Homo sapiens: one gene and its partners. The protein of the gene in region 3 interacts with the protein of the main gene of each other region in a biochemical or structural test. Each region holds a gene or a part of one and is shown on either strand. Other genes may lie near its edges. The genes, in order: DEDD, BCAP31, CASP8, OGT, ATG4D, TNFRSF10B and PLA2G4B.

What was found.
Region 1: the proteins of CASP8 (region 3) and DEDD form a complex in vitro, tested with the Homo sapiens proteins (2 studies listed by BioGRID).
Region 2: of the proteins of CASP8 (region 3) and BCAP31, one has a biochemical effect on the other in vitro, tested with the Homo sapiens proteins (2 studies listed by BioGRID, with this or other methods).
Region 4: the proteins of CASP8 (region 3) and OGT form a complex in vitro, tested with the Homo sapiens proteins (one large-scale study listed by BioGRID).
Region 5: of the proteins of CASP8 (region 3) and ATG4D, one has a biochemical effect on the other in vitro, tested with the Homo sapiens proteins (one study listed by BioGRID).
Region 6: of the proteins of CASP8 (region 3) and TNFRSF10B, one has a biochemical effect on the other in vitro, tested with the Homo sapiens proteins (one study listed by BioGRID).
Region 7: of the proteins of CASP8 (region 3) and PLA2G4B, one has a biochemical effect on the other in vitro, tested with the Homo sapiens proteins (one study listed by BioGRID).

Annotation. Positions count from the first base shown.
Region 1 is NC_000001.11:161,125,918-161,130,051, reverse strand, and holds part of DEDD (death effector domain-containing protein), read left to right. Parts: intron 1-4,134. UniProt on the Homo sapiens protein: A scaffold protein that directs CASP3 to certain substrates and facilitates their ordered degradation during apoptosis. May also play a role in mediating CASP3 cleavage of KRT18. Regulates degradation of intermediate filaments during apoptosis.
Region 2 is NC_000023.11:153,717,444-153,721,577, reverse strand, and holds part of BCAP31 (B-cell receptor-associated protein 31), read left to right. Parts: intron 1-605; coding exon 606-706; intron 707-4,134. UniProt on the Homo sapiens protein: Functions as a chaperone protein. Is one of the most abundant endoplasmic reticulum (ER) proteins.
Region 3 is NC_000002.12:201,273,684-201,277,817, reverse strand, and holds part of CASP8 (caspase-8 isoform 2 precursor), read right to left. Parts: intron 2,930-4,134; coding exon 2,865-2,929; intron 2,296-2,864; exon of another isoform or gene 2,182-2,295; intron 992-2,181; coding exon 850-991; exon of another isoform or gene 276-849; intron 1-275. UniProt on the Homo sapiens protein: Thiol protease that plays a key role in programmed cell death by acting as a molecular switch for apoptosis, necroptosis and pyroptosis, and is required to prevent tissue damage during embryonic development and adulthood.
Region 4 is NC_000023.11:71,539,136-71,543,269, reverse strand, and holds part of OGT (UDP-N-acetylglucosamine--peptide N-acetylglucosaminyltransferase 110 kDa subunit), read right to left. Parts: intron 1-4,134. UniProt on the Homo sapiens protein: Catalyzes the transfer of a single N-acetylglucosamine from UDP-GlcNAc to a serine or threonine residue in cytoplasmic and nuclear proteins resulting in their modification with a beta-linked N-acetylglucosamine (O-GlcNAc).
Region 5 is NC_000019.10:10,542,115-10,546,892, reverse strand, and holds the start of ATG4D (cysteine protease ATG4D isoform 1 precursor), read right to left. Parts: upstream 2,990-4,778; 5' UTR 2,803-2,989; coding exon 2,568-2,802; intron 2,185-2,567; exon of another isoform or gene 2,157-2,184; coding exon of another isoform or gene 2,111-2,156; coding exon 2,027-2,110; intron 1,937-2,026; coding exon 1,763-1,936; intron 55-1,762; coding exon 1-54.
Region 6 is NC_000008.11:23,041,075-23,045,208, forward strand, and holds part of TNFRSF10B (tumor necrosis factor receptor superfamily member 10B isoform 1 precursor), read right to left. Parts: intron 2,170-4,134; coding exon 2,064-2,169; intron 1-2,063. UniProt on the Homo sapiens protein: Receptor for the cytotoxic ligand TNFSF10/TRAIL. The adapter molecule FADD recruits caspase-8 to the activated receptor.
Region 7 is NC_000015.10:41,844,832-41,848,864, reverse strand, and holds the end of PLA2G4B (cytosolic phospholipase A2 beta), read right to left. Parts: intron 4,018-4,033; coding exon 3,795-4,017; intron 3,663-3,794; coding exon 3,545-3,662; intron 3,228-3,544; coding exon 3,090-3,227; intron 2,923-3,089; coding exon 2,818-2,922; intron 2,663-2,817; coding exon 2,483-2,662; intron 2,197-2,482; coding exon 2,030-2,196; intron 1,529-2,029; coding exon 1,342-1,528; intron 1,217-1,341; coding exon 1,005-1,216; 3' UTR 722-1,004; downstream 1-721. Other genes in the region: SPTBN5 (spectrin beta chain, non-erythrocytic 5), read left to right, coding at 237-249; JMJD7-PLA2G4B protein, read right to left, coding at 1,005-1,216, 1,342-1,528, 2,030-2,196, 2,483-2,662, 2,818-2,922, 3,090-3,227, 3,545-3,662, 3,795-4,017. UniProt on the Homo sapiens protein: Calcium-dependent phospholipase A1 and A2 and lysophospholipase that may play a role in membrane phospholipid remodeling.

The DNA of each region.
Region 1 (4,134 bases), on a different chromosome or scaffold from region 3:
TTGGGATGAGACCAGACTTTGCTTGGAAGTAGAAACATAGTAGAGAAGGACCAATCAGGAGGAAATCCTGAAGATACCTATAGACTGTTGGCCCTTGGCTGACTTGGACTTCTCTAAAGAAAAAAGCAAAACTCCAGGAAATACAACAATTCCTCAGAATCAATTATTCTTGGGAAACTGTAGGGGAGAATTCATGTGTTACTATCTCAAATACAGCCAGACCAGTCAGTGGGATCAGGACTTTCTGTGTGCTGGAGTTTCGTCTCTTGGTATTTGGCAGTGTTTCAGATACCAAGACTTGAGTTAGTTCTAATTTTCTGTTCAGAGGGTTACATTCTCCTCACCATTCTGATACCTGTCATCTAGAATCTCTGTATGTTTTAAGTTGAGCTCCCTTGCTTCACTGTCACAGAAATACGAGTATATTTTGGTTTTAGAGGAAATTGGTCATGTTTTCTTTTCTAATTTTACTAATCAGCTGAACTTTCATCACTTTTTTTTTTTTTTTTTTTGAGGCAAGGTCTCACTCTGTACCCCAGGCTGGAGTGCAGTGGTGCGATCAGAGTAGCTGGGACCACAGGTATGTCCCACTATGCCCAGCTAATTTTTGTTTATTGTTTGTAGAGATGGAGTTGTGTCATGTTGCTCAGGCTGGTCTCGAACTCCTGGGCTCAAGCAGTCCTCCTGCCTTGGTCTCCCAAAGTGTTGAGATTACAAGTGTGAGCCACCATGCGAGGCCTCATCACATTCTTTTAATGTTAAAGTTAGATAGATTCTTGGAACCCTTATCTGGGTTGCATTAAGTGGAGAGGGCTGCCTCTTAACCTGCATGACAGTATCCTCATATTTCTCCCAAGCACATGGCCTTGAGGAACTTACATATTTCTATGTTTGCTTCATTGAATAAGCAATATAAGTCTGATTAGTGACCTCACAAGGAGAATTTGCTGCTCATCCAGTTCCAAGACTTTAAAGATGACCCTGAGGCTTACGAGCAGGATCCTTTGTGTCTGTCTTGCAGAGGATTACATTTCTAATATCCCCATAGAACTCCAGATTGAACTAGGTCAAAGTAGACCTCCTGGGATGGGGCAGAAGTGGATGTAGAACTACCACCTGTTCCTCAGCTGAATGGCAACAGCAGGTGACAGAGGACCCAAGGTTGGAGTGGCATGAAACACCTTAGTGCAGTTGGACTTGGGAGTTAAATGAACATGTATGTCCGACAGGCTTTTCTTTTCTTCTGGAATGTTGTTTGATGGGTTTGGATGGAGGGACCAGATGGCTTTTTCTAGATCTAGTGTGGAAAGTGACATGCATTCTTTTGACCCTTTACCATGCTCCACCTAGAATAGGGTTTCTCATCCTTGGCATTATTGACATTTTGTGCTGCATGATTCTTTGTTGTGGCAGACTGTTCTGTGCATTACAGGATGTTTCTTTTTTCTTTTGAGACAGGGTTTCACTCTGTCACCTGGGCTGGACTGCAGTGGCGCTATCACATCCCACTGCAGCTTCGACCTCCCAGGCTCAAGCGATTCTTCTACCTTAGCCTCCCAAGTAGCTGGGATCACAGGTGCATGCCACCACGCCAGGCTAATTTTTATATTTTGCATAGAGATGGGGTTTCACCATGTTGTCCAAGCTGATCTCAAACTCCTGGGCTCAAGTGTTCCTCCCACCTTGGCCTCTCAAAGTGCAGGGATTACAGACGGGAGCCACTGCACCTGTCCTATAGGATGTTTCTAAATATCCCTGGCTTCTACTCATTACATGCTGATGGCAGTCCCCTTCCCCACCAGGCATAATAATCAGAAATGTCTCCAGACATTGCCACATATTCCCCAGGGGTCAAATTTGCCCCTGGTTCAGAACCACTGACCTAAAAGCTATTATAATTCCTAGTACATTGATGATCTAGCCTGGGATCTAGGACTTAAAGGTGGCTAGTGTGTTTGTTTCCTCTCAAATGTAGGGAGTTAACTTCAAAGGATTGAAGCTTATAGAATTACATCCATTGATACATAATTAGGACCACAGTGCTTTCCTGTATTTTGCCTTATTTTCCATTGCGAGGGTATGTGGGGACAGTGTTTCTTCATTTCCTGGGGTTTAAGCACACTTTAAATTAGGGAACTGTGGAGCAACCAGCTCTTCTGGTTGGTTTAATGTGAAACCTACCCAATCTGCTTTATCTGAGAGCCTCACAATCAACAGCTGGCCCAAGGGAACAGGTGGGATAGGGAACAAAGAGAAGTTGCAGGGGCTCTGAGGAGGCTCAGTTTTCTCATGTTGCCTGCTATGAGCAATAACTTATTTTCCTTTAGCACCTTCATTTGTACCCAGTAACAGCAACAGGTGAATCGAGAGGAAGAGGCAAGGAATACCAGTCTATAGTTGAATAGCTATTTCCCATGCTTTGGGTGGGGCATCTGGGCTCTCAAAACTATATATGGATTACATTTCCTGTCTACATATCAGAACCCATGGTATAGGGTTAAGTGATCCCAGAGTGTACCTCCCCTTTTCTTAAGGGAATGAGTTTCTCTGTGCTTTCATTTTAGTTTTTCATCTGAGGAAGAAAGGACCAGTTCCTACTTACTCTTCAGCTTTCTCTATCAGCTTTGTTTTTCCAAAGAAGCTTATTATTTTATTGTTTCCTAGTCTAGCCTCAGTTCCTTTTTGTATAAAATGGACAGAGCAACCTGTTTAATTGTTGAGTAGGGTAGAGTGGTGTGGTATGGTGTGGGTAGTTCTGGACATTGCAGAGGAGGCTATGGCTAGTTAGAATATATGCATGGTAACTGAATTACCTGTATCTGTTTTTAATGGGGTCCTCTCTTGGACTTTTGTGAATTTGTTTCTTAATTGGAATTGCTTGAGGTGATCTCTTGGAGATTAAGTTCAGTTCAACAGTGGGTTGCTCCCACTATATTTGAGGCTCTGTCCATTACTAGGCACTAGGGATATAAAGATGAATATATCTCTCCATGAGTTGAGTAGGATCTAATGGGATAATAAATACACAAATAATTTTAGTACATGGTGATAAATGGTGTAAAGGAGATATGCATAGTGTTCCATAAGCGCACAGAAGAGGACTACTTATCTCTGCATGGGGGTGTAGAAAATGCATTTTGAAGATGGCATCTGAGCTGACTCTTAAAGAATGAGTAGGAGTTAGCCATCTGAAAAAGAGTGATGATGGGGGTGTGGAATAGAGAAGGGAGAGGGGCATTCAGGCAAAGAGAAGAGCCTGAAGAAGGTATAGAGAAATTGCATGATGTATGTGAACTATAAACAAACTGATAATGTTAGAGAATAAAAAGCGGATGTGATGGGAAATGAGGTTGGGAAGGTAGGCCTGATCTTAGAAGGCTTGATGTGTGTGTAAAGAATTTGGAGTGTTCGGCCAGGCGTGGTGGCTCACACCTGTAATCTCAGCACTTTCGGAGGCCGAGGCAGGCGGATCACAAGGTCAGGAGTTCGAGACCAGTCTGGCCAATATGGTGAAACCCCGTCTCTACTAAAAATACAAAAAGTAGCTGGGCGTGGTGGTGGGTGCCTGTAGTCCCAGCTACTCGGGAAGCTGAGGCAGGAGAATCGCTTGAACCTGGGAGGCGGAGGTTGCAGTGAGCCAAGATCGCGCCACTGCACTGCAGCCTGGGCGACAGAGTGACTCTGTCTCAAAAAAAAAAAAAAAAAAAAGAGTTTGGAGTGTTCTTATAGATAACGATGGGGCAATCAATGGGTCTGAAGCAGGAAAGTGACTTGGTCAGTTGTGGACTTCAGACAGCTAACTGAACTAGATGTGGCAGTGGATGGATTTAGGTAGGTTAAGATTGGTGTTGCAGAGAACTTTTAAAGTTACAGTAGTCCAGGTGAGAGATTATTGTAATCTGAACCATGGCAGTGGAGGTGGAAAGGTAGGATAGATTTAAGAAATATCTAGAAGTAGCATTAACAGGAATTTAGGATTGATTGTGTGATTGGAGAGTGTGACCAGAGAGTGCACAGTATAGGATGGTACTGTCTGGTGGAGCAGTAAGTATGAGTGACTTGAGTCAAAGTTGTTGAATTTGGGAATTGATTAATGGCTGCGTCATTGGTATTACCTGTAGCCCATAACGATGG
Region 2 (4,134 bases), on a different chromosome or scaffold from region 3:
AGGCTGGGCGCGGTGGCTTACACCTCTGCACTCCAGCCTGGGCAACAGAGCAAGACTCTGTCTCAAAAAAAAAAAAAAAAGATTAGTTTTCCAGACATTTTGATCTATACGTGGACCAGCATCTTTTTTTTTTTTTTTTTTTGAGACAAGGTCTCGCTCTGTCACCCAGGCTGGAGTGCAGTGGCGCGATCTCGGCTCACTGCAACTTCCGCCTCCCAGGTTCAAGTGATTCTCCTGCCTCACCCTCCTGAGTAGCTGGGATTACAGGTGCCCACCACCACGCCTGGCTAATTTTCGTACTTTTAGTAGAGACAGGGTTTCGCCATGTTGGCCAGTTTGGTCTTGCACTCCTGACCTCAAGTGATCCACCCACCTTGGTCTCCCAAAGTGCTGAGATTACAGGTGTGAGCCATTGCACCTGGCCTTTTTTCCAATAGTCTTGAATGGATGTCAAATTAGAGAATTGCAAGCCACTGAGGCTGACTTTGCATGGGCTATTCGGCCATTGGAGAAGAGTACAAAGCTGGATTTCCATTTTGCTCAGGGCCCTAGAGCTCGTGTGTGTGCTTTCTCTTCAACTCCTGTCCTTTTTGTCTTCTTCACAGATGGCAGAAGATTTTCAAGTCCCGGCTGGTGGAGTTGTTAGTGTCCTATGGCAACACCTTCTTTGTGGTTCTCATTGTCATCCTTGTGCTGTTGGTCATCGGTGAGTGAGCTATGGCTGAGGGCAGCTACCTGACCTAGACCCTGGTCTCTGCTGCAAAACCCTTTGCCACTTTTGATGTGTAGCATCCAGTTTTGGCTGCTAGGAGACAGACCAATGAAATGCTGTGTCTTTCTCTTGAGGGAGGGAAGAGGCTCCCTTTGCCCATGCTGCTGACCGCTAGTCGGTTCTTCACTTTGAGGCCCCTCTAGGCCGTACATGGTGGCTCATGCCTGTAATCCCAGCACTTTGGGAGGCTGAGGTCGGTGGATCACCTGAGATGAGGAGTTCGAGATCAGCCTGGCCAACGTGGTGAAACCCCATCTCTACGAAAAATACAAAATTAGCTGGGCGTGGTGGCGGGCACCTGTAATCCCAGCTACTTGGGAGACTGAGGCAGGAGAATTGCTTGAACCCACGAGGCAGAGGTTGCAGTGAGCCTAAATCGCACCATTGCACTCCAGCCTGGGCAACAAGAGGGAGACTCCATCTCAAAAAAAAAAAAAAGAGGCCCCTCTAGCAGTGGGCGTGGGCTTATACCAAGCAGTTTGTATGCAGCTTATGACGGCCACCTTACATTGCTTTTTTTCAAGACCTTGGAAGGAGGGACGCCTAAGGTTTCTGAGGCTGCTCCTCAGGTCACTCTAGAACTGAAGCCAAGAGAAGCTAACTGGCCTGTGACCTTGGTCTGAGTAGTGCTGCTCACCAGTCACTTAAACAGCAGAATTGCCTGGAGCAGGGCCTCTAATGGGGGACTGAGCAACCAAGCACACAGTGAAGTCCTGCCATTCCCTGTAGTAGTAGGAGGAGAACACAGAGATGTGTGGCAGCATATCTTGGGGAGAGATCCTAGACCTCTCTGCATCTGGGCTAGACTTGAGGTTTTCCCAGGTCGTTCCAGCTCTGTAGTTCTGTAAACTCTGACATTGAGGTGTACACTAGCAGGTGCTTGAAAGATAAACTGGTCCAAGGGCAAGCAGGCTCTGGGATAAGGCCAGGCCAGGTGGTGGTAAGATGAAAGGCAGACATTTTGCAATGAGGTGGTAGGGTGACCATCTGGAGACAAGAATCAATAAAGCTCTTGTCTGACTGGTAGATGTTTGTTGTTTTGCTGTGGTAAGTGATCGATATGTCCCCCTGTTTGGGCTCCAAAGTATTGGCTTGGCTCTGCTGTGGACACCACTCTTGTCTCAGAGCTGTGGTGCCTGCCTAGGCGTGGAACACTCCTCCCACCGAGTCCCAGCAGAAACACTGAGCGGGTGGGGGGCTGTGGTTCAGGGGAATGTGCAAAGCCTCACCCACCAGCTTCAGCATTAGGCATTTCTCCTTCCTGATGTCTCAGAGCCTGATAGGATATGTTCAGGCTGGACTGCCTCTGAACAGGCCAAGTGTTACCTGACAGCTTCCAACCACATAGGGTAGGTGCCAGCTGCCTGAGCACCTCAGTGTTCTTGAAATACTTGGCAAGGCCCCAAGAGGTAGTAGCTCTTTCTAACCAGGGTTCTCGCCCTGAGCAGCCTCCAAGCCAGGAGTAGGTAGGTAATATATGTGTCATCCCCAGGCCACTGAGTTTTTGAACTGAGCATGTGTGTTTTGGCTTTTGGGTCTGGGGTGGGGGTAATAACTGGGGAGGGGAGGGACCATGCTGAGGATGATTCCCTCAGGGTCTTGCCCCTTCCCCAAACCAGAAGGAGTATGTTTCTTTCCTAGAGCAGCTGAGTGGGCTGGAGAGATCCTTTGCGGAATCCAGTAGTTGACAAAGCCTTCATTCTTTTTTGGGATCGGGGAACTGCTTGGAAGTTCTAGGGGGACATATGGCCATGATGACTGGCTGCTTCCTACTCCCATGTTAAGAAGCATAATCTAGAAAGATCTGCAGAGCCTTCTTCAAACAGAAGTGTTAGTCACAGGTACTAGTGAAGGGTAAGGGGCATAACTAGCTAGAGCTGTGGCCTTGCTTGGGGGTGGGGAGGGTTGAGCAGATCCTCCTGGAGGATGGAGTTGCTGAGGGTGCAGGATCTTCCCACCTGGGCTGAGGCCCGAGACAGGGAGGGCTGGTTTCTACTGTGGGACTTGGGTTAGTATTGCTCAGTCCCCCATCCCCACTATTGGTCATTGGCCAAGGTGGTCCTTAGGATGGTGGGGTTCCTGGATGCAGGTGACAGTGTAAGGAAACATGTTTATCTTGTTTTTCTGATTACAAAAATAATGGGTAATTATTCTTAAAAATTCAAAAGTTGAATTTAGAAAGTTAAACTCCCCATAATCCCATTTCCCACAGGTAACCATCATGAGTATTTTGTTGTGCATTTCCAGAGGGGTTTTGTATGCTGACATCTTTAATAAAATGTCTACAACGGTGGGATCATACACACAAAGTATTTATGTTTCTTTCCACATTCCTGCTGGGACATGGCAGGAGGAGCATTCCACGCCTGAGCTGGTAGCACAGCTCTGAGATAAGACTGCTGTCCATAGCAGAGCCTAGCCAATACTTTGGATTGTGCTTTTTCTACCTGCTGCACGTTAGACATCTTTTTTTTTTTTTTTTTTTTTTGAGATGGAATCTCACTTTGTTGCCCAGACTGCAGTGCAGTGGCGCCATCTTGGCTCACTGCAACCTCCGCCTCCCAGGTTCAAGCGATTTCCCCTGCCTCAGCTTCCGAGTAGCTGCAGGTTACAGGCGCCCGCCACCATGCCCGGCTAATTTTTTGTATTTTTAGTAGAGACGAGGTTTCACCGTGTTGGCCAGGCTGGTCTTGAACTCCTGGCCTCAAGTGATCCGCCCACCTCGGCCTCCCAAAGTGCTGAAATTACAGGCATGAGCCACTGTGTCCGGCCAACATCTTTTTATAGCAATCTCATTCTTCTTAAAGATCATGTAGTATTCTCTCATGTGGTTGTGCCGTAATCCATTCTTTATAAGCATCTTCGAATCATTGCAAATTTATGCAAATACTTCTGTGGGATAATTTCAGAGGTGAATTGTTGAACCCGAGGGTATGAACATTTTGCATTTTATACAGGTGTGCTGTTTTTACCCCTGCTAACAGCGTTTGAGAGTACTCGCTTCGTGGTGCTGAGGGATGGGCAGATTTTTATAATGCAAGATCAACATAAAAACTAAGCAGCCTAAAACCGGAAATTAAGAACCCCATGAGGCCAGTGCCCTGACTCACGCCTGTAATCCCCACACTTTGTGAGGCTGAGGCAGTTGCTTGCGCTCAGGAGTTTGAAACTAGCCTGGGCAACATGGCGAAACCCCGTCTCTACCAAAAATAGAAAAAGAAAAAATTAACTGAGTGTGGTAGCACACACTTGTGGTCCCAGTTACTGGGGAGGCTGAGAGGTGGAGGTTGCAGTGAGCTGGGATCGTGCCACTGCACTCAAGCCTGGGTGACAGAGTGAGACCCTGTAACCCACCATACAAA
Region 3 (4,134 bases):
GAGGCAGGAGAATCACTTGAACCAGGGAGGTGGAGGCTGCAGTGAGCTGAGATCACACCACTGCACTCCAGCCTGGGCAACAGAGTGAGACTTTGTCTCAAAAAAAAAAAAAAAATGTTAATAGGGGCCATTACAGACTCCTGATGATTATAATCAGTCTACATTAATTTTCTAAACTTACCTCCATTTGCAAAACAAATCAATAATTGATGTTATGCCTGATAAACACTATTTCCAAAAGTTCTTTGATCAAATCAAAATTATTAATCTCTCAATGGTGATGGATGATTTTTATTTTTTGTTGTTGTAGTCACTTTTTATATTCACATACTACAAATTGTTTTTTCATTTAACTTGTAAGTTCTTGATCTTAGCTTAATTTGGCTGAGCAAAAGAATTGCTAACCAGTTTAATATTTAATACTTGAAAATGCTATTTCTGTTAAGAACCCACAATTTCTGCTGCACTTAACAGCCCAACCTGTAAAAATGCAGCCTCTATAAGAACTTTGATACCACAGCAATTTCATCGCCTAATACATTCCACAGAAGCGCTATGCATTTAGCTGAATTCAAAACAAAGCTTATTACTGCTTTTCATTATGTCTTTTAGTAAGATTTGATATTTTATATTTATACATACATTACTTTTATTTAAAAAATTAATTTTTAAAAAAAGCAGGAAACTGATAAATGTATAAGAATGTTCTTTACCTCCACAGGGAAATATGTTTAAATCCATTTTCTTGAAACATGGCCCTTTTGGTATAGCTTTTGTTCTCTCCCTTTTGATTTAAAAAAAAATAGGCATAAGAAATATTTTACTTTTCTCTTTTGGGTTCTACTGTACCTGCATCCAAGTGTGTTCCATTCCTGTCCCTAATGCTGTGAAGTTTGGGCACTTTCTCCCGTGCTTTTGCAAAATTGTGATTGTTGATGATCAGACAGTATCCCCGAGGTTTGCTTTTCATTTGGTAAACTTTGTCCAAAGTCTGGAAAACAAAAACCCAACCCAGGAGCTGACTCTGTGGGTCAAACACTAGAGATGTAAACAAACAACTCCCTAGTAAGAGGACTTGCTTTCCATTGCACCACCCCAACTCGGGGTCGTTTCCTCGAAGAACTAGTTTCTACCTATTTCCTTCACACAGGACCTCTCAGACTTCTGCCCCATCGTTGTAAAGTCAGTGTCCCAATACCTGGGCCTCCTGAGCACTTTGCACATATATTAATATTGTTGTCATCACATTGTATTATTGTTTGTTCTCATTTCTGCTTCCCATACTATACAGAAGACTCCTTGAGGTTCATAACATCTGTGCCAGGGACTACGGTGTATTAACTTGTGAGAGCTCAATCAAGAGTCACTGAATGAATGAATGTCTTTGGCTGCCCCCACGCCATGACTTGTGATTCTCTTGGCTGTCTACTGAACTCATCTGTGCTTCGTGGCTAACAGCTGAGGGTCTCCCATTCATGCATTGCACAGTGTGGTCCCAGGATTTTAAAGGTGATGGCTTAACCCAGCTCTCAGGACCACGGTGGCTGCTGGGAAGAGATGGGCTGGTCAGGGAGGTCCTGGCTACACTGTAGGTTATGGTATCCAAACTGTAGTACCTGATAGTACTGGCCAGGGATGGCGCTGTGTCCTATTCATTCTCCTAGGGCTGTTTCAGTACCGAGAAACTCAGCATTTAGTTGGAGGTCTGCGTAGCCCCTTGAGGTGGAGAAAAGGACTCCAGGCTAGGAAGCCCAATTCCTGCCTCTACTTCACCTTATGACTTTGGGCAAATAACCTGTTATCTTAATATGTTAACTCTAAGATATTAAATATTTGATTAAGTTTGTACCAAGTATGTTAAGTTTTTATTATTTACAGTTGTGTTCTAAGTATTTATTAAGCATATTAAGTGTATTTACTGAGATACTAAGACACTAAGATTTGGCCAGGCACGGTGGCTAGTACCTATAATCCCAGACTTTGGGAGGCCAAGGCAGGAGGATTGCTTGAGGCCAGGAGTTCGAGACCTGGCTTGGCAACGTAGCAAGACCCCTGTCTCAATAAAACATTAAAAAAGGAAAAAGATACTAAGATTTACTAAGATATTAAGACAGTGTTTTTAGCTCTTCAGTGGGGACAATGCTTGTAGCATGCTATACTGTTTAGAAAGTACCACATTACTTGGGTTAATCCTTGACTTTCAGATGAAAGAGGTCTGGTAATTTTCTCAGGAGCCCACACTAGTGAATAATCTCTCTCAAGCCTACTTCAGATATTCAGGATTTCCTCTTCTTCCTACCATGAGGAGGAGCAGATCGTCTAATAAGTCAGGATGTATTTGGTGGATTGTTGATTACATAAAGAGAAGTTATTATGCCTAAAAATTACATGTTTCTGCTGGTTCACTGAGACAAAAACACAGAGATGGCTAGATTGTGAGAGTTTGCTGCTTACACCTCATCACCAAGGAGAAGCATTTTTGAAACATTAAGCTAAAGGAAAAGGCTTGGCTTTTTCCATTCCTGCTAGACTCTTTCTCCAAACCACTCCCCCATCCAGGCTGGCACGGCTGCTAGAAGATTTGGTAGGAGGCTTATTACCCCCTCCACCCTCCAACTATTCCAGTATCTTCATCTCGGGTCTTAAAATAAAATTCAAATGTATAGAAAACTGAAGGAGTCACATTTTAAAAATTAAGTCACATTTTTAACTTTTTTTGTGTGAATTTTTTCTACAGTTCTCAAAATTTTCAGTAAGTTTCTGCCCCTTGTCAGTTTATCTGGCAGCAAAAAAAAAAAAAAGCTAACAAATTAAATAACTAGAATCTGTAATGTAAAAAAAAGGATTTGGAGGTTTCCGTCTACCTGTGATTCACTATCCTGTTCTCTTGGAGAGTCCGAGATTGTCATTACCCCACACAACTCCTCCCCTGCAAACAACGAAGAGACACATCTAGAATGAGACATGGCAGGAAAGGTACACTGGTAATGAAATATGTAGCACATAGGACAACATAAGGTCTTTTTTAAGATGAAAATTCAAGCTGGGAACAGGGGCTCACGCCGGTAATCCCAGCACTTTGGGAGGCCAAGATGGGCAGATCACTTGAGGTCAGGAGTTCAAGACCAGCCTGGCCAACATGGTGAAACCCTGTCTCTACTAAAAGTACAAAAAAATTAGCCGGGCGTGGTGGTAGCCACCTGTAGTCCCAGCTACTCAGGAGGCTGAGGCAGGAGAATCACTTGAACTTGGGAGGTAGTGGTTGCAGTGAGCTGAGATCGCACTACTGCACTCCAGCCTGGGCAACAGAGTGAGACTCTGTCTCAAATAAATAAATGAAATAAAATGAAAATTCACAGACTGCCATGAATATAATCTCCTTTCAAGCCAGAGAGATTCTGCAAGCAGGGCAATTAACATGCTTCTGGAAACACAAGATCAAGTTGTCTCCTCGCCAAAGAGAAAAACATACCAAGAAATGCCATAATTTTATATTGCTCCACATGGCCAGGTTGAATTTTTGTGGTATTTGTGAGATACTCATTAATAAAGCCACTAGCTCAGGATGAATTAATGATTTAGTACTTTACTCCTTAAAGTATTCTTAAGGCCTTAGGCTCAGCAGGCAGAGGGGAAAGGGAAGGACAGCCTGCATAGACATTAATCTTTAAAATACATTTGAGTGATCCAAAATGTATTTTACACACACACACCACAAAGAGCCAACGTAAAAATACAATAAAAATATTCATAATATGAATGGAGTGATGGTGTTCTTGGACTTGTAAAAATTTCTCTGAATTTAAAATAATCTTCAATTAGTGTATATAATTTTTCTAATCAGAAAGAATACTTTATTAATTGCCTATAGTCCCAGCACTTTGGGAGGCCCAGGTAGGTGGATGGCTTGAGCTCAGGAGTTCAAGATCAGCCTGGGCAACATAGCGAAACCCCATCTCTACAAGACATACAAAAATTAGCCGGGCATGGTGGCTTGTGCCTGTGGTCCCAGCTACTCAGGGGGTTGAGGCAAGAGGATCATCTGAGTCCAGGAGGTCGAGGCTGTTGTGAGCCAAGATTGCATCACTGCATTCTAGCCTGGGGGACAAAGTGAGACACTGTCTCAAAAAAAAA
Region 4 (4,134 bases), on a different chromosome or scaffold from region 3:
CAAACTGTTCCATGGGTGAAAGAGACTTAAGTCCTAGAAAGTGAAATTTTGTCAACTGTGCCGAAAAATCATCATATATATGATTTGCTCTGGAACTATATTATGGTTTCCAAAATCACTTAATTCTACTGATAAACAGCTTTTGTGGTTGTATAGTATCATCCATCAGGTGAACCAAAAAGTCTGCCAACAAAGTACAGGCTGCCACACAACAATCTTACGGTCAGCCATACTGGGTCAGTTCCATCATCTCCCTGACTCAATACTGTCCTTCAAGCAATGACTGATGTTCTAGAGAGTAAGGTTGTCTCCCATCACTTCAAGCACAAAAGGCTAATACTAATCCTCAAAACATCAAAGGTACCATTAATCTTATTTGACTTCTCCTCTAATTAGCCTGAGCACTTTTTAACACTATACTCTCAGAAGTAATGAATTATATAATCTTGCTATCTACTTTGTATGGTTATGTTTTTTTCTAAACTGAAAGGGTTACCCCTGTTTTGGCAGACCATGACTGCATAATCCAATCCATGCATACAAGCTCCTTCTACTACTTGATAATTGTGGTTATACATGTTTGGACTTTTACCAATTCCTATGCCTTTTCTAAGTCATAATAATCAGAAGTCTTGCAATAATTCTCCAACAATGACTGTAATGGCCATACATAGTAGCCAGCTGTTGCGTAATTTTATTACCCTCTAGTTTCTATGAACTCTTGGATGGATGCCACTTAAGTCCTGACAGCATATCTATATTTTGTTATCATCTAGATCCATTACAGTATACTATATCAAGTTAACACAATGCTCATAGTTAAAAATACATTATCTTCAAGATTACTATAAGATAATCAATAAGGCAGTTTTAGGAAAAGCTAAAACATCATATTAAATGTAACGGTGAAATCCAATTCTCCTGTTTGGGGATCCAAACCTATGTGCATGAACAGCTAATTTCTAGAAAACGCACGGGCACCACCATTCTCCCAAAAGTTCAAAACCCAAGACATCACTTCTGCTTCATCTGTCAAATCAAAATGTTTTTGACAATTATATTTCTCAAAACTAGCCCATTTTATCCATCCCAGGTTAATACATTTCAGGCAAACTGTTACTCAATTCAATAACATGCCTGGAACTATAGGGAAAAGATATAGAATCCTTATCATCAAGGGGCTTACAATCTATGTGAAAAGACAAGGCACACACTAAATGCCCACTCAGTAGTAAAGAATTTTAAGAGAACTAGATGATGAGCTCATAAGAGAAGTTTAAGCTGGGCCTTGAAGGATGAGTAGGGTTTTAATAGACAAAGGAGGAGGGCACTGTATACAAGGGAAAATCGTGAGAATAAAAGGAGATAGAAATGAGCAAGATTTTCCTGTAGAACTATTTCTCCTAAGATTGCATCAGTTTCCTGCCTTTCCTCCTAGAGCCTCCCACCCCCACCAGCCACAACATCTAGACACGTACATACATATGAAGTAAAATCAGGTCGATAAAAACCTACAGTAATTCTCAATTGCCTCTCAAATTAAATTCAAACTCCTCAGCCTCTCTATTCTTTATAAATCTTCCAATTGACTCTCCTCTACTACATTCACTTCTTGTTACTACTTGACTCACCACTTCAGCCAAGGAAGTCTACTTGCTATTTACCTTCCTACAGAATGCTTAGGTCATAAGCACCCACTCGAGGAAATCTTCTGATTAATACTCTCCAACAATTATCATCCAAGGAACTTACACCATTTTTTCCTTTACGGGTCAGGTCCTGTCTTATATTATAACCCGCAACTTCCCCCACAACACATCTCCCCATTTCCTAACAAAGCATTGTATGCACAATAAGCACTCACATATTTAAATGTGACATTTGCACAGCAACCTTAACAAAAAGCAGAACAGAGAAGAATCGAAATATACAACAGAAAGCAGAACAGAGAAGAATCGAAATATATGGTTTTCTACAGTGCAGCTGTATAAGAGAGGCTCAGCAGTAACAAGTAACAAATAACATGACAGGAACACACATGATGGCCAGGATGCCAGCAGCTCTCCATTCTGTGCATCCACAATCAAAGCACAAGCAACAATTCAACAACCTATAGATTCAGAAACAGACCTGTTTAAAACAACTCAGGGTTATAGCCGTTACAGAAAGGACAATTTTATACATAATTTGCAAAAGGAATTGCCAGGTATAGGCAACTCTAGTGAGTCACCATGTCAAAGAACATGTGCTGTCACTGCAAGGTGCTATCTGCAATAACACCTTCAAATACAACAGACTGCCAGGCACAGTGGTTCACGCCTGTAATCCCAGCACTTTGGGAGGCTGAAGCAGGCGGATCTGTTGAGGCCAGGAGTTCAAGACAAGCCTGGCCAACATGGTGAAAGCCTGTTTTTGTAAAAATACAAAAAATTAGCCAGGCATGGTGGTGGGCACCTGTGATCCCAGCTACTTCGGAGGCTGAGGCAGAAGAATCGTTTGAACCCAGGAGGCAGAGGTTGCAGTGAGCCGAGATCGCGCCACTGCACTCCAGCCTGGGTGACAAGGGCAAAACTCCGTCTCCAAAAAAAAAAAAAAAATGACAGACTAAAATCTTACCAAAATTATGAAAACACCCAACATTATAATTATAGAAGATAATTCAGAATGAAAAAAATGAGATAGCTGTCTCAAAGATAATTTCTATAATCAAGTCACAGAGAACAACTTCTAAATTGACATATCTATTAACTTAAAAAGATAAACACTGTTGAAAACAGTTACCAAGGTTACCAAAGATACCACCTTAACATTCTACTCTTTCACTGCTGCAAAACCAAAATAACCTGAGTTTCTTTAACCATTTTTCATAGAATGCCAACTACATCTATGATTCAGGTACACAATGTACTAATGATGCATTTAAGCACTGTCAACAAGAACATAAGGAACAGACGCAAGGTTCTACCAGTACTGAACTGACAACGGGCATTTGACAGTAAGTTTAAATCTAGTTAAGACTTTAGATATCCTGAAATAAATTAAAATATGATCACTATGGCATGTTTAGTTGAAATCAAGGGAACTTGCACAATCCCATTTTCATTCTTATTGGTAAAAACAGTAATAAATAAGTAAAGCAGCACCTTCCACTAGAAGAAACATAGAACCAGATGACAACACATGGCCATTCAATGCATTCAAGAGGTAATCCCATGATTTATTTTAGTACTATCTCACTTCCTTGGTAGGGTACAACAATAAGCTTCCTGCTAACAGCAGGTTAGATATTAAATAGCAAGGTTCCATCTCTCACTTTAGTTTTCCTTCTCAGCATAGTCCTACTGCTTGGGTACACTATCAGTAGCAATGACTGCTCTGCTACACACATAGGCAACTGGAAACCTGAGCCAAGGGCATTAGAGTTAAAGATGGCAAGAACCACAGCTGTGTAAGAGGGTACACTATCAATAAGAGTAGAATCAACCTGATTAATAAAGGTAAAGAACTTACTGTGACAACTGGGTACAGAGGTGAGCCCTGAGCCCTGGGAAAAATGGGGTCCAAGGCCCAGTGGCAGTACATACCAGGCTCCCTAAAACTTTATGTGGGTAACTAGCTAGATTAGTATTGCAATAAAACTTACAAAAAGTCACTCAAATGTACATATATATACACTGAGTGTCTCAGAAAAGATAGACAAGAAATTAGTTTCATTTGCTACCTCCAAGAGTGCTAACTGGAGGTATTCACTGTATCCATTCAAAAACCAATAAATTTAGAAGCTGGGTGTGGTGGCACACACCTATAGTCCCAGCTACTCTGGAGGCTGAGGCAGGAGGACTGCTTGAGCCCAGGAGTATGAGTACAGCCTGGGCAACATAGCAAGACTCCATCTCTTAAAAAAAAATGTTTTTTAAAGCAATGGATTTTCTAAAAAGGACACGTTTAAACTCTCAAAATTAACTACAAAAATTGTTAATAGATATCATCATGAGAAGTGACTTCGGATCTTTGAACAAACTACTAAATTTAGTTTCAGTTTCCTAACCAAAAAATAAGGGACAGCAAAATATGATCAATGGTTTTTTAACTGTGCTCAAGGGCTGCTTTGATGGGTGAGTGCCCTCTGGGCAC
Region 5 (4,778 bases), on a different chromosome or scaffold from region 3:
CTGACCCTGACAGCTCAGGGGGGCCCAGGCCCATGCCCTCGGCCCATGTCCAGTCTGGTGGAATGGAGCACATAGTCAAACAGTGCTAGTGTGTGGGGGGCAGAGGTCCCATCTACACATGCACCGCACACAATGCGAATGCTCCTGAACCCCGTAATTCAACAGAATTTACATATTCCTGAAACATATACTTATCCTTATTTATTTATTTATTTTTTGTTACTTAAAGACAGGATCTCAGCCAGACGCGGTGGCTCATGCCTGTAATCTCAGCACTTTGGGAGACCAAGGCAGGTGGATCACTTGAGGCCTGGAGTTCGAGACCAGCCTGGCCAACATGGTGAAACCCCTTCTCTGATAAAAAAAAAAATATACAAAAAGTAGACAAGCGTGGTGGCGGGCACCTGTAATCCCAGCTACTCAGGAGGCTGAGGCAGGAGAATCGCTTGAACCTGGGAGGCAGAGGTTGCAGTGAGCCAAGATCTCTCCACTGCACTTCAGCCAGGATGATAGAGGAAGACTCAGTCTCAAAAAAAAAAATAATAATAATAATAAATAAAATAAATAAATAAAGACAGGATCTCACTGTCATCCAGACTGGAGTGCAGTGGCACAATCACGTCTCACTACAGCCTCTAAATCCTGAGCTCAACAGATTCTCCCGCCTCAGCCTCCTGAGTAGTTGGGATCACAGGCACATGCCACCACACTCAGCTAATTTTTAAAATTTTTTTGTAGAGACAGGAGCCTTGTCATGTGGCCTAGGCTGGTGTCGAATGCCTATGCTCAAGCGATCCTCCTGCCTCAGCCTCCTAATGTGCTGGGATTACAGGCATGAGCCACCACACTCGACCTGTTATTGTTGGAGTCTCATTCTGTCACTCGGGTTGGAGTGCAGTGGCAGGATCATAGTTCACTGCAGACTTGAACACCTGGGCACGAGCAATCTTCCCACCTCAGCCTCCCAGGTAGCTGGGATTACAAGCATGCAGCACAGTGCCCAGCCAAAACTCTTTTTTTTTTTTTGAGACTGAGTCTCGCTCTGCCACCCAGGCTGGAGTGCAGTGGCACGGATCTCGGCTCACTGCAACCTCCGCCTCCCCGGTTCAAGCAATTCTCTGCTTTACCTTGCCAAATTACAGGTGCCTGCCACCACACCCAGCTAATTTTTGTATTTTTAGTAGAGATGGGGTTTCACCATCTTGGCCAGGCTGGTCTTGAACTCCTGACCTCATGATCCACCAGCCTCAGCCTCCCAAAGTGCTGGGATTACAGGCATGAGCCACCGTGCCTGGTGAAACTTTTTTTTATTTTTATTTTTGACACAGAGTCTCCCTCTGTTGCCCAGGCTGGAGTGCAGTGGTGCGATCTTGGCTTGCTGTAACCTCCGCCTCCTGGGTTCAAGAGATTCTCCCACCTCAGCCTCGGGAGTAGCTGGGATTACAGGCGTGTGCCACCACAACCGGCTAATTTTTGTATTTTTAGTAGAGATGGGGTTTCATCATATTGGCCAGGCTGGTCTTGAACTCCTGACCGCAAGGGATCCATCCGCCTCAGCCTCCCAAAGTGCTAGGATTACAGGCATGAGCCACCGTTTCCAACCCCGGCTGAAACTCTTATAAACAACTCTCATCTCTCCAAAACTTACTTGACACACAATTCTAACGTGACTTTGAACTCTTAGTTGGTAAGTAATTCTAATACTGCTGATATGGCAGTTGACCCTGTACTCCTAGTGCACCCCTTCCCCCCTATGGCTCACCTCTGGGCAGGAAATGCAGCAGAAGGCCCTGTGCCAGCATCATCTGGCCGCTGCGTAACATGCACCCCCAGCCACAGTCCGAGGTCAGGCAGCCCCCAGGAAGGGGCGGGAAGTCCCGGCGGTATGTGAGCCACAGGCGGGACACAAAGTCCCGCTGGAAACGCTGTATGTCACCTACAAGAGCGGGTCTGTCAGCTGCCACCAGGGACACTCCGGCGGGCGTGGAGAGGCCTCCCCCAGCCCTGGTCCCAACCACCAGCTCACCCTCGCCCTCGAAACGGTAGCGGCGGCCACAGAGGTGGATGCTGGAGATCTTGCTAAAGCTGGTCCGGCTTTTAACCACCCAACCTGGGGAGACGTAGGGGCAGCGCCCAGCGAGATGAAGCACTTGCATGACAGCAACAGCGCTTCCATTCCCCCATCTGTGAAATGGGCACGATCCTAGTTCCTATCTCCGGGGTGGCTCCGGGGATTCCGTCGGAGGTGGGGCCCCCAGTGACAGCTACAGGAGTGTCCACCATCAATTCAGGATGAAGGAAGGTAGTTCTGATTATTGTACCCATTTTACAGAGAGGGGCAAAAACGGAGGCGCCAGGAAGCAAAGGATCTTGCCCAAGGTCACACAGGGGAATGGGCGGGGCTTGAAAACACTATTGGACCTGCCACAGGTCCACCCTGGGCCGGGCAGGGAGGGGACCCACAGGTGACTCAGGACGGGAACAAGGGTGGGATAACTGGCAGGACCGGGGTCTGGTTTTCCTCAACGGCCCCCGACACCCCCACGATCTCCGGGCCCCCTCCTCACCGTACTTGACGTTGTTCCAGGCTGTCAGGAACTTGGCCTTGAACTTGTCCACTTCGTCCGGCTCACTCGGGCCAGCCCCGGGAGAGCCAAGAGCGGGGCCGCTGGCTCCGGAAGGCCCCAGGCCGTTGGGGTCTGGGCCTCTGGGACCCCGCGGCCTGCGGGCCTCGGGCCGGCGGCGCGCGTCCTCCGGGCTGCTGCTCCGGTACTGCGCGGCGGCCGGCGACACTGAGTTCATGGACGCGCCGGGAGGGCGGACCGAGGGCCCAGGTGGGGGGCTGCGGCCGCTGCCCCCCAAGGGCGACCCGCAGCCGGTTCACGGGGCCCGGGGAAGGCGCTACTCGGCCCCCGTCCCCAGGGTACCGGGCCAGGCAACAGCCGCCGCCGCTGCTACCGCAGCCATCGCCATCTTAGCGGGCCAGGACCCCGGATGACGGTGGGCGTGGCCAAGCCAGACGCCCCGCCCCGCCCTCTCCCCGCCCAGCCGCCTTTCCTGCCCCGATCCCGGGTCGCCAGGCGGGGACCTCAAACCCCGACGCCTTCCCGCGGCCTCCCCCCGCCCTCCTTATCACACCGCCAGGAGCGCGACAGCCCCTTCAGGCCCTTATCGGAGGCAGCAGAGCTGGGGAACCCCTGCCCCTGGCCCCGCCCCTAGTCCTGCCCCCCAGGGCCCAGGACTGACCTCCTGGCAGGCGCCCAGGTGAGACTGACTGCGCACCTGCAGCGCCCGCCCCGCCTCCCGAGTGCACCTGCGCGGGCTGCCGACCCAGAACCCGCCCTGGCCTGGGACCAAATCGACTAGTGTGACCTCCGGGGCAAGCCACGCCTCTCTGTGCCTCAGTTTCCTCATGTGCAAAATAGGGCTGGAATACACGCAACAACATAGACGAATCTTCATGAGAATTATGCTCAGGGAAAAAAAATCCAGGGGTAGGCAGGCGCGGGAGGGAGGGATGAATGAAGTGCTCCAGGAAAGTTTTTTTCAGTGTTTGTTTTGTCGAGACAGCATCTGGCTCTGTTGTCCAGACTGGAGTGCAGTGGCGCTTTCATAGCTCACTGCAGCCTCCAACTCTGATCCTCCAACCTCAGCCTCCAGAGTAGCTGAGACCGCAGACAGGAGCCACCATGCCTGGTTAATTTTTTAAATTTTATTTGTAGATAAGGGGTCTCGCTATGTTGTCTAGGCTGGTCTCAAACTCCTGGCTTCATGAGATCCTCCCGCCTCAGCCTCCCAAATGCTGGGATTACAGGCGTGAGCCACCACCTCAGGCAGGAAGACATTTTTTGGAGCTGTGGATAAATTCAGTATCTTAACTGTAATAGTGGCTTCACAGGTGTGAAAACTCATCAGATTGTACGCTTAAAATTTGCATGGTTTTGTATATGTCTATTATACCTCAATAAGGCTGAAAAAAAACCTCTTTGTTTTAAAAAGTAATCAGTTAACTTTTTATAGAGACAAGTTCTCTCTATGTTGCCCAGGCTGGCCTGAAACTCCTTAGCTCAAGTGATCCTCCTGCCTCAGCCTCCCAAGTAGCTGAGACTACAGGAAAATATTTTATTTTATTTTATTTTTTAATTTTTTTTCTCTAACCTTGCGAGGCCCAAACAGATTTTGGTTGTTGTTGTTGAGACAGGGTCTTGCTCTGTCATCCAGACTACAGTGCAGTGGCCTGATCATGGCTCACTGCAGTCTCAACTGCCGAGGCTTAAGCAAGTCTCCTGCCTCAGCCACCTGAGTAGCTAGGACTATAGGCACATGCCACCACCCCTGGCTAATTTTTTTTTTTTTTTTTGAGACGGAGTCTCGTTCTGTTGCCCAGGTTGGAGTGCAATGGCGCGATCTCGACTCACTGCAAGCTCTGTCTCCCAGGTTCACACCATTCTCTTGCCTCAGCCTCCCGAGTAGCTGGGACTACAGGCGCCCGCCACCACGCCTGGCTGATTTTTTGTATTTTTAGTAGAGACGAGGTTTCATCGTGTTAGCCAGGATGGTCTCGATCTCCTGACCTCGTGATCCGCCCACCTCGGCCTCCCAAAGTGCTGGGATTACAGGCGTGGGCCACCGTGCCTGGCCACCCCTGGCTAATTTTTAAAAATTTTTCTGTAGAGATAGAGTCTCCCAGTGTTGCTCAGGCTAGTCTTGAACTCCTGGGCTGAAACGATTAGCCTCAGCCTCCCAAAGTTCTAGGATGACAGACATGAGCCACTGCA
Region 6 (4,134 bases), on a different chromosome or scaffold from region 3:
TTGAGACAGGGTCTCACTCTGTCACCCAGGCTGAAGTGCAATGGCGTGATCTCAGCTCACTGCAACCTCTGCCTCCCGGGTTCAAGCGATTCTCCTGCCTCAGCCTCCCAAGTAGCTGGGACTACAGGCACGCCACTATACCCAGCTAATGTTTGTATTTTTAGTAGAAACAGGGTTTCGCCATGTTGGTCAGGCTGGTGTCAAACTCCTGGCCTCAAGTGATTTGCCCACCTTGGCCTCTCGAAGTGCTGGGATTACAGGTGTGAGTCACTGCGCCCGGCGTTATATGGGAATTTTTATTAGAATTTTGGACCCAGCGCAGTGGCTCACGCCTGTAATCCCAACACTTTGGAAGGCCGAGGTGAGAGGATCGCTTGAGCCCAAGTGGTTGAGGCTACAGTGAGCTATGATCCTGCCACCGCACTCCAGCCTGGGCAACAGAGTGAAATCCTATCTCAATCAGTCAATCAATCAATCAATCAATGTATAATTTCCCTAATCTGTAAGAATTCATGTGACTCAATGATTTAAAAAAAAAAAAAAAAAAAACCTAACCTCTTACTAGGAGTGAAGAAAACCTAGGAGAACCAGTGTACAAACAGTGTCTGTGTCATGAACAGATTCTTGACCTCATTCACAGGAAGAGAAATGCACATTTCGAGGAGTTTCCACATCTCAGTCCTTGACACTTGCTATGGCCTGCTCCCTGTGGCTGGAAGGGCCATCTCTCCTCTAGGATGGAAGTTCTCCAACTGCTCCTGCTCAGCCCATTGCAGTCCTGTCTCCCTGGCCTATCGTCTCCAACTTCAAATCCTCATGGGCTCAGTTGTGCCCCTCCTCAGTATTTACAACTTCTTCCAGGTGGACACACTCAAGACAGCGGCTTCAAGCATCACCTATGTGCTAGGGTCCCCAAATGTGTACTGCTAGCCCTGCCACACACTGTCCCCTCAGAGGCCAAGTTACCCTGAGCAGTTGAATTTGGTGCCTCGATTGTCCTCATTCCCCACACGTCATCCATCCACACCCCAAATATGTCTTGAGTCCTTCCTATTCCCGTCCTGCTTCCTGGTCTTGACCCTGGACCACAGCAATAGGAGCATTTACAGATGAGTTTGTGTCTGCTTCACGCTGGGTTCTTCCTTCTCCATGCTCTGCTCCTGGCAAGCCCACATGTGCAATGTGAGGGTTTGCCCTCAGGCAAGCCTTTCCTGTGGCCCTTAGTCATGGAAAAGAAATGCAACTTTGTAAATGGATTTTAAAAGCCACTGCTTGCCACACTTGCCTGCCCTGGAAACCTTCATGCAGCAATCAATTCCTAACTCATACACATGGGGGAAAAGGGGGAAGAAGTGCGAGGCGAACACAACAGTCAAGCACACTTCAGGCCAGGTTCCTGCTGCATCTCTGGGGGCTCAAATGACCTTACGGGACACCACATAACATCCCAGGGGAGCGCCTCACACTCAAGGCCCTCCACCTGCTTCCTGTCTTGCTCCGGTTCAGTCCAGGAGTGGGCACTCAAGATGTACATCCGATGCTGGTGGCCCTCTGCTGAAAACTTCTCAGGGACATCCATCACTCATGAAATAAAATCCAGCTTCATCTGTGTGGGATCTGACCCCACGTGTCTCTCTAACTTCCTAACCCTCCACTCCCCACAGCAGCCCCCTGCTGTTGCTCCATCTTCTCCAACTCTTGCCCCCTGGCAATTGTTCCAGTGGAACCCTCCTAGGAGCACTCTTCCTGGCTCTCTGAACCTCTGGCCCTGCCCTCCTCCGGATGTCAGCCCAAAGTCACCATTGCCTGGAGGCCTCACCAGCCCCATCTCTGTCCCACTCAATTCTCTCTCAAGGTTCCTATCAGTTTCTTTGGCTGTCTCATTCATTTGTGTGTCTTGATACCATCCTAGCAGGAAGGCTCCAGAAGGACAGAGCCTTGAACTGGAGGCACCCAATGCCTCTCTGTGGAATAAAGAACAAGGAAGTGCAAAGGAAACAGACTGGAAGCTCATGGAGACAAGGGGAGGAGGGGCAAGGATTAGAGACCCATCTTGAACATACCAGGTGGACACAATCCCTCTGAGGGGCTGGACCTCTTTTGTTGTGGGGCCGCTCTCTGCTGGGGAGCTAGGTCTTGTTGGGTGATCAGAGCAGACTCAGCTGAGACCTGTGGGGACAAAGCAGGGATGGGCATGAGTGGCTTCCAGACCTCACCCCTCCCAGGATCCACTCACATTCTCTTGAGCCCAGGCACCCAAGCTAAACAGAACCCTCATCTTTCTTGCAGCTCTCACCTCTCAAACATCCTTTAGTGTTTGTTTGTCCCTTCATATTTCAGGGAAGGCCAAGTAACATACACCTGCAAAACTCTTCTAAACATGTTCATTCCAGAAAATGTGGGCAAGGAAAGTTTTTACAAGAATACACAGACCACACGTGATATTCTCAGCTAAAGATAGCATCCATTAATATTTTGTCTCATTTAGTTCCACTATTTTTCCATAGGTATGCCTATTCTCTCTTTCTCTCTTTCTCTTATTCTCTCTCACACAGACATACACACAGACACACATTTTTATAAATGGGGGTTATAATATAGCAAACTTAAAAAATTGGGATACAGGATCAAACATTAAATAGTGAACTTCTGATTTAAAAGGTGCCTGACATATAGACCAGAGAGCCCAGAAATGAACTTGCACGTACAACCATGTATTGCTCAACATTGTTCTGAGCAAAGGGTCATTAGGCAATTGTGTTGTGTGAACATCAGAAGAGTGTACTTACACAAACCTAGATGGTGTATCCTATGACACACCTGGCCTATATGGTATAGCCTTTTGCTCCTAGGCTACAAACCTGTGTAGCATGTTACATAATTGCATGGAGCCACCATCACATATGCAGTCTGTTGTTGACAGAAATGTTGTTATGTGGTGCATGACTGTATATGATCAAGTAATTTTTGGCAAAGGTATAAAGACCATTTAATTGAGAGGACAATCTTTTTAAAAATGGTCTTGGGAAATCTAGACATTGACTCATCACAAAACAATGACCTCGGACCTTTAACTTACACGTATACAAAAATTAACTCAAAATGGATCCAAAATCTAACATAAAAGTGAAAACCCTAAAACTTAGAAGAAAACATAGGAACTATTCTTCCTGACCTTGGATTTGGCAATGATTTCTTGAATGTGATCCCCAAAACACAAGCAATATAGGAAAAAAAGTAGATAAATTGCACTATGTAAAAATTAAAAACTTTTGTGCATCCAATGATGATCAACAGTGAAGGGGCAACCCACAGGAAGAGGAAAACATTTGCTAGTTGTATATCTGATAAAAGGTTAATATCTAAAATATATAAAAAACTCCAACTCAACAACAACAACAAAAAGCCAACAATGTGATTAAGAAATGAACAAAGAACTTGAATGGTAACAAGCTCCTGAATAGCCAATGTGTCAAAGAGGAAATCAAAAGGGAATTTTAAGAGTATATTAGAAAATGAAATGGAAACATAACATAACCAAATGTATGGGATGCAGCAAAAGCAGTTTTAAGAGGAAATGGCAATAAACGCCTACATCAAAAAAGAAGAAAGATCTCAAATACAAGACTTAATGTTGTACCTCAAGGAAATAGAAGAAAAGATACACTAAGCCCACAGTTAGCAGAACAAAAGAAATAATAAAAATCAGAGCAAAAATAAATAGAGACTGAAAAAAATACAAAAGATTATCAAAATTCTGTTAGTTTTTTGAAAAAATAAATGAAATCACTAAACTTTAACTAGACTAACTAAGAAAAAAGAAAGAAGACAAATAAATTAAATCAAAAATGAATGAGGAGGCCAGGTGCAGTGGCTCATGCCTATAATCCCAGCATTTTGGGAGGCCGAGACGGATGGATCACTTGAGGCCAGGAGTTGGAGACCAGCCTGGCCAACATGGCAAAACCTCGTCCCTAATAAAATACAAAAAAAAAAAAAAAAAAAAAAAGCCAGGCATGGAGGTGTGCATCTGTAATCCCAGCTACTTGGGTGGCTGGGGCACAAAAATCACTTGAACCTGGGAGGTGAAAGTGGCAGTAAGCTGAGATTGTCACACTGCACTCCAGCCTGGGC
Region 7 (4,033 bases), on a different chromosome or scaffold from region 3:
TGCTAGGCCAGCTGACAGACGTAGAGTTGGGTTATGAAAGTCGAGGCAACTCCCACCCACTCACGCGTCACTGTGGTCGCTGCTGCAGCGCCTGTCAGTCAGCTCTGGAATCCACTCCCACGCTTATTCTAGGAGGCTGGCTGGTCCAGGGGAGGGCAGGGGCACCAGTGTGTGTTTGTTTGGAGAAGATTCTGGGGTGGCCATACCCTACTAAATTCATTCCGTTTTCCCAACAGGTCTGATCCCTGAGGTGAACCCCAGTGCAACACCAAACTTCAGGGGCACAAGCGAGGACACATCTAAGGGACCAGAATAAGACTCAGCTACAGGCAAAAGGGCTCCTTCCCGTGGCTGCTTCAACCCAGTTCCCCAGGCCCAGCTTCTGGAATAGACAGTTCCTTCTGGTTAGATGGGTCCTACCATGTGGCAGGAAACAGCCATTGCCTGGCCTCCCCCTGCATTCCTGTCTGGGTGAAGAGGAGACGTGTTACGGCAGAGCAGGTGGGCAAGGCCAGGGCTACCCCAGGCCCATGTGGCCTCCTCCTTGCTTGGAAGGGGTGACTCTGAGCACAGGTAGACGCAGACGTGTGCAGAGAATGTGCTCTTCGGAGGAAGAACACTGATGAGCGAGCTCTGTACCAGCCCTTGCCATGTACAGCCAAGAGCCTAGAATGACATGGCCCTTCTCAGCAGTAATAACAGATGGTCTCAGCGCCTCACATTTGTATGAGTCTGTGATGTATCAAGTGCTCCAACTACTCAAGGTAGCGCAGAAGGGAAAACAGGCACAGGCCGGGGGGTTTTGGGTGATTACACAAATGGGCTTGGCCTCCTTACCCCACTGCAAACTGCTGAGGCGCAAGGGAGCTCCCAGCCCTCAGCCTGGACCCTGGGACCGTGCCACCTGAGCCCGAGGCTCTGAAGCACTGCGTGATGACAGTTCCCACCTGCAACTCAGCAGCCAGGGAATGAATGAGAGTTAGGGGTGGCAGGGGCCCCGGCCATCAGTGGGGCCTGCGCTGCCGCCTCCGCTGCACTGCCTGGCGCAGAGCCTCCAGCAGCTGCTCCTGGTTGTTGCAGACATTGTAATGTGTCAGGTGCAGCAGCTTGTCCACGTCCTCCTGGCTGTAGGTCACCTTCGTGTAGTGGTAGGGAGAGTCCGATGAAGACAGGTTCACCTCCCCAGCTGCCGCCTCCTCGGGTGTCCGCCGGACCCCTGTGGAGAGAGTGCAGCCTGGCATGGGGAACACGTTGTGGGGAAGACAGGTTTGGAGAGGCACAGGGGACGGAGGAGGTGTGGGGGACTGGGGCAGCAGGATGGGGAGGTGAACAGCAGCTCACCAGGGGCCGAGTACTCCCGGAAGGAGTCGCTGACCAGAGGAAAGTGCAGCACCGCAGGGGCTCCGGGGCAGGTGGGGTCGGAGAAGGTGTGGCACTCCCGAGGCTGGAGCTGCTCTTCGGGGCTGGGCGAGATGGGTGGGAACGGGATCCCCTGCTCCTGGCAGAACCGGCCCAGGAGCTGCAACTGCTGCAGGGCAGGCAGAAGGGGCTTCAGAGGGACAGGGCCCCTGGCATCCTCAACACTGGGGCTGACGTAAGATGCACAGGACCTGGGGCTCAAATGCCAAAACGGTCTCCAGTGGGGCCTATGAAGCCAGTCGTTGGAAAAAAACTCTCCACACCTGACAGGCCTCGGTGGCAGCTCCTCTGGGGCTAGACGGAGCCGGGTTACTCCCAGCATTCCAGTTCTGACACTGGGAGCCAAAGCAGACTCAGCAGGTGGGCCCAGAGGCCCAGGACCACACCTCGCAGGTCAGTAAAGGGGACCCAGCTACAAGATACCAGGAGAACCTCGCCAGCCTCCCAACTTCCGGAAAAGAATGAGCTCCTCTGGTGGCAAATTAAGATTCCAGTGTCCCAATCACAGCTCCTAAAGGAAGCTGAACCAGACACTGGACTCCAAAGCCCCTCTCTTCAGGGGACAGGGGCCACCCACCGCCTCCCTGGTGGGCTGCCCACCCTTCCCAACCTGGAAGGCTCCGTGGAGGTTGTAGTCCAATGACAGGATGAGGTCCACGTCCCGAGTGGGCTGCAGGAGGGGCAGGCAGCTGGTATTGATGAGGTAGCCAACATCCAGCAGGCACAGGTGGGGCTCCGAGGGTGTCAGCTGGTTGGGGAGCCCATCCAGAGTGGTAGCTGGAAGGTTGGGGAGAGCAGCAATTGTCACAGATACCAAGGGTACCAGATTCCTGCTGGAAGGAGAGACTCTGGCCTCTGGTCCCTGCTCTCCTGCTGAACCAACACCCCCACAGCCCTGCAGGTGGGCCCTGGGTCCCCAAGACAAGGAGAAAAAGACCCCTGTTCCAAGTAGTCCAGGGAATCAAGCTCAAAGCAGGAGAATGGGAGTGGACTGTGAGGGGTATCTGGACTGGGGACTCAAGGCTCAGGTGGCCACAGGAGGACTTTGGAGAGAAGCAGGTACCTTTCCATGTGGAGAAGTGAGGATGCTGAAAGTAGTCTTTGTGGAAATGGAGGCCACGCAGGAAATTATGTGTGGCCTGGGCCAGTGGACGCCACGTCAGAAGATCGGTGAAAAACTCAGCTATCCTGCCGGCTGTTGAGGGTGGTTCTTCTATCTTCAGAAGGGGGACCTGCTCCTTGTCTACACAGGCAAGGTGGGGGAAATGGGGACTCCTGCACCTTTATCCCCACCTTGGTGGTGACCCTGGAGGGGGAAGAGGTGTGAACCCCCCGCCCCCTGGTGCAGCCCCAGCTGGCTGCCCCTTGGCACCCTTATGAAGGGCCCGGAGCACTTACCCAGGTTGGCCTGGTTCCTGACCCAGCGGTCCCAGAACTGGCTGGGCTCTGAGGCCCAGTATAAGCTGTCCTGGAGGTTGGCTGCATACAGGTTGCTCCAGATACCTGAAAGAGCGGCCGTGAGGGAAGAGGGCCCCCGACTCTTGTCCCAATCCTACCCTTCCCCATGGCCAGTCCTGGCCCAGGAAACTCTTCTGACCGAGGCTGCCCTCTCACCCAGGACCCATTTTCCCTGCTCGGCCCAGCTTCCCCAGCCTGCCAGTGCCCCTCACCTTCTAAGAAGCAGATGCGGGACTCAGGAAGCCTCTTCATCAGCTGCCCCATAAAGAACTCGGAGCCAAAGAGCTCAGAGGGGATGAAGGCCCCGTACTTGGGGAAGCCGACCTCGTAGGGAGAGAACTCGCACCACTCTGTGAGGAGTCCACGCCTCAGCCTCATGGTGCAGAGCCCTTAGGCACCCACACCCCCACCCCGACCCAGGGTTTTGCTTTAGGGCAGCTGAGGACCAGGAGGCCCAGGCCTTGTGGCCTGGGCTTCGTGCATAGGACCTAAGGCCCCTGCCTCCTTCCCAAAGGGCTGAGGGACCCTGGTAGGGTGCCGGTCTCCAGAAAGCACGGGACCTGGCTCAGGAGAGGTGGGTGTGACATCTGCAATCTGCACACAGTCCTCGTTCTCCCCTTATTCCACCAACTGCAAGGGCACAGGTCTCAGCTCTTGGGCCACTCACCCCCAAATTCAAAAGTGGTCAGGCTCTGCCCTTTGGTGTTGAGGGCACAGTAGATGGGCAGAGGGTTCTGGCCATGACTCAGGGCCTCCCGTTGATCTGAGAGCTTGTGATCATGGGGCTGGGGAAAGATGCGTAGAACCTAAACCCACAGCGGCCTGGGTGCCCAGGGCCTTTCCCACCCTGCTGTCCAGCACCGAGCCCCAGCTCCAGCCCTTGCCCTGGCTCTGCCCCCAGGCCGCAGCCCCCGCACCTCATCATGCAGCAGCGCCTCGTTGATGAGGGCCCACAGGTTGGTGAAGCAGCTTGGGTAGCCCAAGCGGGCACGCTCGGCCAGCTCCTGCCGGTACCGCTGCAGCTGGCTGGGGGCCAGCACACCCAGCTTGTTCTTGGTCACCTGGGTCTTCAGCAACTCAGTGGGCCCTGCCAGGTCCTTCTGAGACCACTCTGGGTCCTCATAAAGGTTGGCCAAGGCCCTGGGAAAAGCCAAAG